Linked DNA regions of Homo sapiens: region 1 is linked to region 2. Evidence: fine-mapped expression QTL. A gene starts in region 2. The other region holds a variant in brackets. All regions are shown on one strand. Distances are from middle to middle.

Region 1 (5,382 bases), 180 kb after region 2:
GGAGGGTCTTTTGGCCCTGTTTGGTAATTGGTAAATCAGTTTAGACTAATCCCTATGTTATTTTAATGGTCAGCAACCCTAGACTAGGGGGGTTTAGTTTCATCGAATTTATTAATTTAAGCACTTACACTTATTTAGTAGAATCAGATGGGTTTTTTAAAACCAGCAAATTGTTTTCATAATTCTCAACCAGGAAAAGACTAGAATTATGGAATTTTTAAAAGCCTTTTTCTTAAAATCAAATATATATATACCAACAGAATTATTTTCCTTCAGTTTGAAACTACTTTCTTATTTGGACTGACTCTCTAGTTTAGAATATGCCATAGTTAAGTCGGTTCTTTTTTTTTTTTTTTTTGAGACGGAGTCTTACTCTGTCGCCAGGCTGGAGCACAGTGGCACGATCTCGGCTCACTGCAACCTCCACCTCCCGGGTTCAAGCGATTTCCCTGCTTCAGCTTCCAGAGTAGCTGGGACTACAGGCGTGCGCCACTACACCCTGCTAATTTTTTGTGTTTTAGTAGAGATGGGGTTTCGCCATGTTGGCCAGGATGGTCTCGATCTCCTGACCTTGTGATCCGCCTGCCTGCCTCTGCCTCCCAAAGTGCTGGGATTACAGTTGTGAGCCACCGCACCTGGCCTAGATTGGTTCTTTAGTTTGTACTTTGATCCTGTGGTTTATTGTTTAATCAAGGTTAAAAAAAAAAAAGAGTTGAAAATATACAATGTATTCAGAAGCCCTAATTTAACAAATTCATATGCAGGGTAGTATGAATTAATGAATTTCTTAGAGTAAAGAAACGTTTAGAAAAATGATCTCCAATAAAACCAGGAAATAAGTAGGTTTCGCTAAACCTAAAATACATGTCCTGAAAGCATTTACGTTCTTCCCATAAGTAAAGATGCGTATAATTTGCTTTACAGGCACATTTATTTTGATAAGGGCTGGAAATACAAAATCTTAGTAAATTAAGTATCCTGAAATTGTAATAATTGACTTTGTCTTATAGTTAAAATATAGCTTTGCCTGGTCAGAGGGCCTCTAGGTGTCAAGTACTTCCCTCTTTCTAGCTGTTCTGATCCCTGGTGAGCATTCAATAATGTAAAGAAGAGATTACCTTACTGTACACCTATACGGCAAAAGCTCTGCTGAGAGATAGGAAACGTTGATTTTAATCCCTACAGTATTGTAAGTTTCTGTAGCATTGTACACTTAACCTCCTTGTTACCTACATTGTTTCTCTTACTCTCTTACTAGATGGATTTTTAAGTATTTTGTGTTAAAGCAATTGGTAGATTACAACACTCTATACAGAATCAAGGTGTTATGATCCTAGGCCTACACAGATTTTTCTCTATTTTTGTTTTGGAAATTCCTTACTGCACAGGAATGCAGGCCTAAAATTTTTATTTGGTTTCTTTTCTTTTCCTTTTTTTTTTTTTTTTTTTTGAGATGGAGTTTCACTCTTGTTGCCCAGGCTGGAGCGCAATGGTGTGATCTTGGGTCACTACAAACTCCACCTCCCGGGTCGAAGCAGTTCTCCTGCCCCAGCCTCCTGAGTAGCTGGGATTACAGGCATGTGCCACCTCGCCGGGCTAGTTTTGTATTTTTAGTAGAGATGGGGTTTCTCCTTGTTGGTCAGGCTGGTCTTGAACTCCTTACCTTAGGTGGTCTGCCTGCCTTGACCTCCCAAAGTGCTGGGATTACAGGCATGAGCCACCGCACCTGGCCTCATTTGATTTCTTAAGGTCATCATCAACCCTAATTTTCCGTTTGTTCTTAATATCTTTCAGATTTGGAGTCTCTCTACCTTTGGTCTTCTCCATACTTTTGTCAGTGAACATGCTCGGCAGTCCATTTTTAGAAATATTGGAACTGGAGTGATGCAAATTGAGACAGGGCCTGCAAATCACATTTTCTCCTGTGGAGCTGATGGAACAATGAAAATGAGAATACTGCCAGATCAGTTTAGCCCTTTAAATGAAGTGTTGAAAAATGATGTGAAATTTATGCTATAACATTTTTACAATAAGATGTACAATTTATTACCTATATGGAAGTGGCCAACAGATATAATATACAGTGATCATTCTCTATGCCACAAATTAGCTAATGCTTTCTTGTTTTTATATTTATTTTATGGAGCTTTGCCCTTGATGCACTGATGCCTTAAAAATTAACAAGGTCATTCAGAAGTAGATTACATTGCCTAAAGTAGAATGTGTAAGTAATGCTGTAATAATACATATCATAGTATATTATAATCAGTATGTCATAGTGTTAAAGGTGTTTTGTTTTCTTATTGATACTTTTCCACAGGCATCTCTGCATGAATTTCTTCCACAGTAAAAATACGTTTTTTGTAAAGGCAATTGTACATAATACTCATCACTTAATTCACCACACTCTCACTTCCTTTATTAGCCTTATACATCTCAAACTCTTCTCTTAATTAATGATAGGTATTTGAGTAAGAATGAAAAAAATAATGAACATCTTCATTAAAATTGTCATTGAGACGTCAGTGATAAATGAGCTAGATGGCTCAATATGTAAGGTTTTCAGTAGTTTACCCTCCGGAACCCAAGTTGTATGTATGTATACGTGTGTGTGTGTGTGTGTGTGTGTATCTTACACATCTTATTTGAACTTAGTTGTATATATTAGCGAAAACTGGTTTTTCATGTGTTTTTGTGCCATAACAACTATTGCCACCAGAATAACTTTTTTTTTGCAACTGTGCTTTTCATTTTTAAAAAATTTTTGAATTCCCATCCTAATTTTCAAATAAGTTTCAAGGAGACTATCAGGATTATTATTTTAAAGATTAGATTTAGTCAAATAAGTCTTAGCAGGCAATAAAGTTTCTGTGGTGGCATATATCATGTAAGACACTTAAAGTAAGTTTGTGAATTTGTCAACTTTCGAGCATCAAACAAATATTTTACTTAAATTTTATTTTATCTTATTTTTAGGTGCTTTTAATCTCAAAATTCTGAAAAGCGAATAGCAGTGTTTTCAGAAACAAATGTGAAAGCAGTCAAATTAAGTAGATACTATTTAGAAATGTAAAATACT[C/G]TCCAGATCTACCATTAATAGAAAATAAACTAAACCTTATATTTTATTTTTGCCAAAATATTTTATTATAAAATATGACCAAAATATTTAAAATGCACAATGCTTTTAACTTAAATGTGCTAACCCTGTTTCTGTCTGTTTTGTGCTGTACCTTTTCTGATTCAGAATTATAGAAAACTTGATAAATACTTGATTTTAACCAATGAGACTACAGGCAGATGGGACTAAGTGTTTATGGGACAATTATGTACTATTTAACTTAAATATATTTTGTTTAATAGGAAATATATAATAATAGCATTTTATGTAATAAAATATGGGCAACGATTATCTTGGAAATTAAAGAGTCAAAGCAAAGAAATGAAGGGCTGGTAAAATGAATTTTGTAATATCCTCAGGATACTTTTATCTTAAAAGTATGTTGTTAAAGATTTTGTAAATTGTATTTCAACAATTTTAAATGTGTTGAGCAAGTTGCAGTGCAAACACTGTCATTATGTAGAGAGTTTATATGCACATAATAACCTGTACCTATAAATCGTGCAATAACCATATGCGACTATTTTGCCATGGAGAAATCTGACAGCATTGCAAACAATAGTATTGTTTGATGTAGTTAACCTTAAGTTATTTTTCAGTAATTTCTTCACAAATCAAGATTCAAACAGCTTTAAACACTTCCAATGAGATAAAATATTTACTATTATGCTTATTAGAACAAAAGGTGTTTAAGGATGAACTAAATATTTTAATTGAGCATTTATATGGATAATCATACATTATGTAAGCCCATATGTATTTACATCCAGAGTCATAATATTTTAAATAAACAATCATGCAGAAACTTTTTTAGGGGGTATACTATTGTTTTAATATCGTTGCCAATTTAGCTGACTTAAAATATGTGACATTTTAAAATCAAGAATTTCCATATTTGTATTTGGTTAATGTAAGGAGGATGGAATAACTTTCCCGAATACCCTGTTCTTTTCTACCGTCTTTTTAAGTTGATAGGTAAGCAGCATTCAAGGAAGGTGGGAATAAAAATTGTTGAAATGTTTAAATATAAAATGATATACATATATGTAAAATTTCATTATCCACATTAATGGAGTGGATACATCAAAATACATTTTTTAATTGTGTGTTTCCTAAGAATGTGGCTTTGTGATCATATAAGGATTCACAACATTAACAAATCTTATTTTCTGATATCTAGGATTTTTCTTAACTAAAACCATGGACCAGTCATCTCCATCCTCCTTTCTTGCTCTTTGCCCTTGCCCTCCCTTCTTTGAAAAAAAAAATATTTTTTAGAAGAATTGCAGAAATTTCTCACATTGGTCCCAACAATGGAAACACAATACAAAGACACATTCAAAGAAAAGTCTATACAACCTTAGGGTGGAAGTGATCTTTTTAACAAGATTGGAAACACAGACATATTTTACTTAATAAAAAATTTAAATGTCATATGGCAGGGACCACAGTCAAAGTTAAAACAACAAGTAGACTAGAAGAAATATTTGTATAGTAATAGGAAACATGTCAGTGTCCCTGTATACAAAGAGAAGTTTAAGTTATTGGAGAAGTGGTCACACTGTGAATAAGCAATTCACAGAACAGGACATTGAAAAAGTCAACAAATATAAAGTGTGTTCATCTTCATTATAAGGGTTAATGGATTGTTTTTTAAAAAGTATTACTGTAATACTAGTTTTTATCAGATTGGTTTAAGGTTAAATAGTGACAATATCCATTTTGGTGAAGATGCAAGGAAATTGGCAGAAACATTGCTGGCAAAGTTATCTGGGTGTGAATTAAAATCAAATACACATAACTTTCAGTGAACAACCTTCTGAGAAATTATAAAAATAAAAGCTTCCATGCATAAAAATGTAAGGACACAGATGTTTATTGAAACATATTCTAGAGGCCAGATGTGTTGGCTCACACCTGTAATCTCAGCACTTTAGGAGGCTGAAGCAAGCACAGGTCACTTGAGGTCAGGAGTTTGTGGCCAGCCTGGCCAACATGGTGAAACCCATCTCTACTAAAAATACAAAAATTAGTGGAGTATGGGGTTGTGTGCCTGTAGTCCCAGCTACTCAGGAGGCTGAGGCAGGAGAACCACTTGAACCCAGGAGGTGGAGGTTGCAGTGAGCCGAGATCATGCCACTGCACTCCAGCCTGGGTGACAGAGCAAAAGTCTGTCTCAAAAAATAAAAATGAAAAAAAAAAAAAAAAAAAAACTGGAAATCTAAATGTTAATTAGCAAGTAAATGGTTGAATAAATTATGGTA
Region 2 (5,382 bases):
AATTTTGTTTGTTTGTTGTTTTTTGTTTTGTTTTGTTTTGTTTTTGGGATGGAGTCTTGCTCTGTCGCCCAGGCTGGAGTGCAGTGGCGCAAGCTCTGCTCACTGCAAGCTCCGCCTCCCGGGTTCACGCCATTCTCCTGCCTCAGCCTCCTAAATAGCTGGGACTATAGGTGCCCGCCACCACGCCTGGCTAATTTTTTTTTCTGTATTTTCTGTAGAGACGGGGTTTCACTGTGTTAGCCAGGACGGTCTTGATCTCCTGACCTCATGATCTGCCCGCCTTGGCCTCCCAAAGTGCTGGGATTACAGGCGTGAGCCACCGCGCCCCGCATCTTGTTGCTCAGTTTTATTCTAATACGTGGAATGCTCTTCAAAACTAACAAATGGGCAAAATAGAATGAGTAAACATGTTAAATTATGAACCAGCCACAGAATTTATGTGGGAGCCACACAAGTACAACAATCCTGGTTCTGGGTCTAAAATATAAAATTAAAAAGCACTTGAAGTATAATTTGAAATAATAAAAGACAAACTGTAGGTATGTTAGACCTCAAAAAATAAGTATATTTTAAAAAAAGACAAATTAAGTTTTGTCCCTTATCTTATGAAAAGCCTGGAATACATAATGAAATTCATTTTTTAAATAAGTTTCGGGTTTTTTTTTTTTCCCCACATCAGATGGGTAATGTGCAGATGATGGCGCAACAAGGTTTGAGGGAGGGACGTCTCACACAAGTGTGAACACACAATCATCCCACTTATGAACTAAAAAGTATCTCGTAAGTAGCTTTTTATTGTCAGACAAAGTAAATGTACATTGCAAAAAATGTAGTAAAAATAAAAGGAAATAAATTTACTAGTACTCGTCCCACCCTAGTATTATTATAGTTTGAAGTCTTCATACTACAACAAAAGGGGGAGTTTCTTTATTTTCTTTTCTCTCTTTTTTTTTTTTTTTTTTGACTTTCTCTCTTGTTGCCCAAGCTGGAGTGCAATGACACGATCTTGGCTCACTGCAACCTCCGTCTCCCAGGTTCAAGCGATTCTCTCGCCTCAGCTTCCCAGTAGCTGGGATTACAGGCGCGTGCCACCATGCCAGGCTAATTTTTTAATTTTTAGTAGAAACTGGGTTTCACAATGTTAGCCAGGCTGGTCTCGAACTCCCAACCTCAGGTGATCCCCCCGCCCCCACCTCGACTTACCAAAGTGCTGGGATTACAGGCGTGAGCCATCGTGCCTGGCCTATTGGAGAGTTTTGAGGGTTGTTTGTTTTGAGACGGGATCTCACTCTGTCACCCAGGCTGGAGTGCAACGGGGGTCTTGGCTCACTACAACCTCTGCCTCCCGGGTTCAAGTGATTCTCCTGCCTCAACCTCCCGAGTAGCTGGGATTACAGGTGGGAGCCACCACGCCCGGCTAATTTTTGTATTTTTAGTAGAGAAGGGGGTTTCACTATGTTGGCCAGGCTGGTCTCGAACTCCTGACCTCGTGATTCACCCTCCTCGGCCTCCCAAAGTTCTGGAATAATAGGCGTGAGTCACCGTGCCTGGCCTATTTGGAGAGTTTCTATACACATTCATGCAACATTTACAGAACACCCTGAATGGGTGGGACTGGTGCGGTGCTAGACATTAAGGACAGACTTGTGTCCTGTTCCTCTGTATTCCAAAGAGGCTTACGGTATACAGGGGGAGACATATAAACAGATGTTTGTCAATTATAATACAAAACTTGTGTCAAAATACAATGAGAGTTGAATCTCAGTTTGTAGCTGTGACTCTGATCATTCTGGAATTCCTAGGTTCTTTTCCAAAACAAACGCTCAATGCAGGGCTGGTGTGTTGTTATTACCAGCACTATTTCAAATCACGTGTTAAGATAACTTAGGCTAAGAAAATACCACTTTCCTACTTGTCAAGTGTTCGAGCCTTTCAAAAACCATCCCGTTTAGGGACTTGGAAACACGCGCAAGGCTGGAGAAACCATTAAGCTGCTAACGTAGACGTTTCAAGGGTCACATTTACTCAAGAGACACTCAGGTCGCCCGGGGGAGCGGTGCATATTGGGACTTGTAGTCCTACCAGAACCGAGGAAACTGCAACTCCCTTTAGGATGCACTTCTCCCCTTTAAATTTTCTGGCCCAACAGTTAGATGACGCCCTAACCTAAAGCACAACTTACCACATCTCACTCATTCTGGGTTCATCAGGCTTCTGCCAGGCTTATCAGGTTCAAGCTCAAACGCACGGCGTTCTCCTGTAGAAGCCTCAAAGAGATTGGCTTATTCTCGGTGGTGGGCGGAGCCCTAGGTGGACCGGGGGTCGGGATTGGCCAGTTTCTGACTAGAAGAGGCGTTTTTATGTTCACTTGCTGATACGCACGCTGTGGTAAAAAAGTGAATTCTTTACCACAGTAGCAGCTGCCCCGAGCGAAGTCTCGCGATATTTCGGCCGCAGGGATCCAGAGGCGCGTAGTGAGTGGCGGAGGACTGTGGGGGTGGCGGGCACCGGAGCCGGGAAGGGACAGGTCAGGCGGGGAGTGCGAGCGCGTACTGCTTGCGCCACTCGGGCTGGGTCAGGAGCGGCTGCCCGAGGTCCAGAGGAAGTGTGTGGACAGCGCGGCCTTCCTGGCCGGTGAGTCGGCCCCGGGTCGTGGCCGGTGAGGGGACCCTGAGCTTCACCTGGGCTAGCGCGGGGAGTGACAGGTGCGCGAAGGAGCGCGGCGCTCCGCCCTCTCGCCGACCCGCCCCCTCCGGGCCTCGCCCTCCGGGGCTCGGGATGAGTCGCGGGCCCCAGCTGAGCGGCTCCGGCTCCAGGCGCCTGTCGCTGCTTCTGCCGTCGCCACCGAAGAGCGGCCGCCGCCCCTGAGGGAAGGAGGGAGGGAAGCAGCCGCTGACCCGTGGCATGAGCTGGATGCGGTGTCCGTTGCAGGACTAGGGCGCCGACATGAACCTGCACCAGGTGCTGACCGGGGCTGTGAACCCTGGCGACCACTGCTTCTCCGTGGGCAGCATTGGCGACCAGCGCTTCACGGTGAGTGAGGGAGGCCCTCGCGTCGCCCGTGGCCCGGCCTTTGCCCGTCATTCTGGGCCGAGCTTGGCCCAGAACGACGGGCAGAGGCGCGAGGTCTTGTCTCCCCAGGGGGGTCCTTACCACCCAGAACCCAGCAGACCTGGCCCTTGAGAACTAAGGAAGCAAAACCATGTCGGTCAGTGAGGTACTGTATGGAGCCTGAACTCAAGTTAGAATATTTTGTAGGATTTTTAAAGTTTTTGGTCTGTCTGCCTTGGGCCAGGGTGCTTTGCCAAAGTCGTTTGTTCAAAAATCTTTGTTGAGTAACGAGTTGGGGGCTTTTTTATACCATTCTATAGGTTCAAATTGTCAAATTTAGGAATAGTGGAGATTGGTTTCATTTTGTATTCTAAGTTAAGGTCAAGTATCTTTGTAGTTAAAAAGTGGGTGTCTCAAAACAATTACCAATTGTTTGCCATCAACAACTAGCCTTGAGAACAGTGTTTTTCATTTATTTTCTTTTCTAATTCCCTGAGAAATAACTTCGGAAAGAAAAAAAAGCCTTTTCATTTTTAAAAATATTTCTTGGATATTTTACAATAACCTGGTAATCCCAGGTTAAGGTTGCTTAACTTGCTTTTCATTGGTCACATATTGACAAGAAGAGGGCACCAAATTTCGGGCTACTTGTCAGTATAGTGGCATTTTTCTACCTTAACTATAGGTTTTTTTTTAATAACAATTTCAAAATATAAGTCAGTAATTGCACATGATACTTTTATCTACATAAATTTATAATGCTAATGATTTTTGCTACAATTTGTGTAGATACCTCTTTAGTTGTGATTAAAAGTAAAACTTGTCACTGCCTGGGAATACTAAGTGCTGTAGGCTTTTTTCTTTAAAAAAAATAAAAGTAAAACTTAATTTTGTATAAGTGACACAAAGTAAACAACGTAACCAATGCCCCAGGTTTAGGAGTGTTAAATTTCTAATCTTTTTCTCTGCTTTTAATTTTTCTGTGGTCTTTGTTGGTCAGAATAAATAATACTCAGCATTTAAAATGGTGGAGGCATTTAATGCCTGAATTGTACTTTTAGAATTGTGCCAAGAAGCATTTTGTTTTCAAATAGAGACTGTACCTCCCCTTTAGATTGACTCATACACATCTTAATTATCGGGATTCCAATTCTAAATGTTTGCCCAGCCTGAATACTTGGGAAAAGAGTGAGCTCTGAGGGTCCCAGTGAGCAACTATAGTTTCCTTACACCTGGGCATTGCTCTCTGCTCTTGCTGCTTGAGAGGAAAGTAAACATCATCCTTAGAAGGTTTTCCTAGTGGGAAATTATAGGATAATATTGTTGCATTCTCTGTCATTTCCTAAATTTATATGAGTGCTTTCTCCAGTGTAAATTCTAAGAACTTTTGCTTTTTAAAAACTTTTGAAATGAGGTCTCCCTCTGTCACCTAGGCTGGAGTGCAGTGGCGGGATCACAGCTCACTGCAGCCTCGACCTCCCCGGCACAAGCCGTCCTTCCACCTTAGGCTCCTGAGGAGCTAGGACTACAGATTCTAATCACCACGGCTGGCTAAGTTTTCTATTTTTTGTAGAGAGGGGTCTCCTTATGTTGCCCAGGCTGGTCTTGACTTCCTGGGCTCAAGTGATCCTCCCACTTCAGCCTCCCAAAATGCTAGGATTAGAGGCGTGAGCCACCATGCCCAGCCCTAAGAATTTTTTCTAAGAAGGCATTCACAATCTATGTAAGCAGTGGTGTGAACTTCAAAGCATATGCAGTATGATGGCCTATTTATATACCTGGATGCATTCCTCTATAAAACCTTGGTGAATGTCTGTGTATTGTTTTTAAGGAGAGATCAGTTAATGTGCCGAGGAGGATTAGATAGATGGTCATCCTGTACCATCATGTAGCTTGTTGCTCAGTTCTGCTGAATTTTAAAGTTCATTTCCATTGAGTAGGATTTAATCTCCCACCAAGCCTACTGCAGATTTCTTCCAGGTCTCTGGAAGCATTCAGTAAATAAACTAAAAATAAATTTTTAAGTATAAAGAGAGTTCAGCTCTCTTTAGTTTTGATGGAATTTTAAGGATTTAACAGTCATGGTTTTCCTTTGCAGCCTGTTCATCCTTGACTCTTTAAGTTGCTTACGCTCATTATCCTGGACACTTATATACACCTTAAATTTTTCTCTCTTGAAATCGCCCTTTTTTCTTCTCTCATGTTAAAAGGCAGAATCTATTGTTTACTTCTTGAGTTGTTTTGTGTTGTTTTTTTTTTTTGAGACGGAGTTTCGCTGTCGTTGCCCAGGCTGGAGTGCAATGGCGCGATCTTAGCTCACTGCAACTTCCG

Which allele goes with the higher level. Alleles are on the strand shown, and positions count from the first base shown. SD is a standard deviation of normalised expression in the study named.
For the expression in aorta of the gene that starts at base 2,464 in region 2, allele C in region 1 goes with a lower level than allele G (moderate effect, 0.47 SD a copy in GTEx).

What was found. PIP is the estimated chance that this variant, and not a neighbour inherited with it, causes the effect.
Region 1: its variant is the best candidate, but not a certain one, in a credible set for the expression of DMXL1 in aorta (GTEx, PIP 0.83).

The regions. Positions count from the first base shown.
Region 1 is chr5:119,245,201-119,250,582 of GRCh38, forward strand. It overlaps DMXL1 (Dmx like 1), which reads left to right. Exons shown (of 44, transcript NM_001290321.3): 44 at 1,795-3,927. The coding sequence ends at 2,019. Among named protein-coding and RNA genes, the nearest start is that of MIR5706, 93 kb to the left of the region's middle. The variant C/G (reference allele first, on the strand shown) is at 3,080.
Region 2 is chr5:119,068,624-119,074,005 of GRCh38, forward strand. DMXL1 (Dmx like 1) reads left to right here and starts at 2,464. Exons shown (of 44, transcript NM_001290321.3): 1 at 2,464-3,033. The coding sequence starts at 2,947. DMXL1-DT (DMXL1 divergent transcript) reads right to left here and starts at 2,267. Exons shown (of 3, transcript NR_134250.1): 1 at 2,183-2,267. LOC124901209 (small nucleolar RNA U13) reads right to left here and starts at 777; the gene lies at 674-777. RefSeq lists silencers at 2,231-2,310, 2,621-2,900.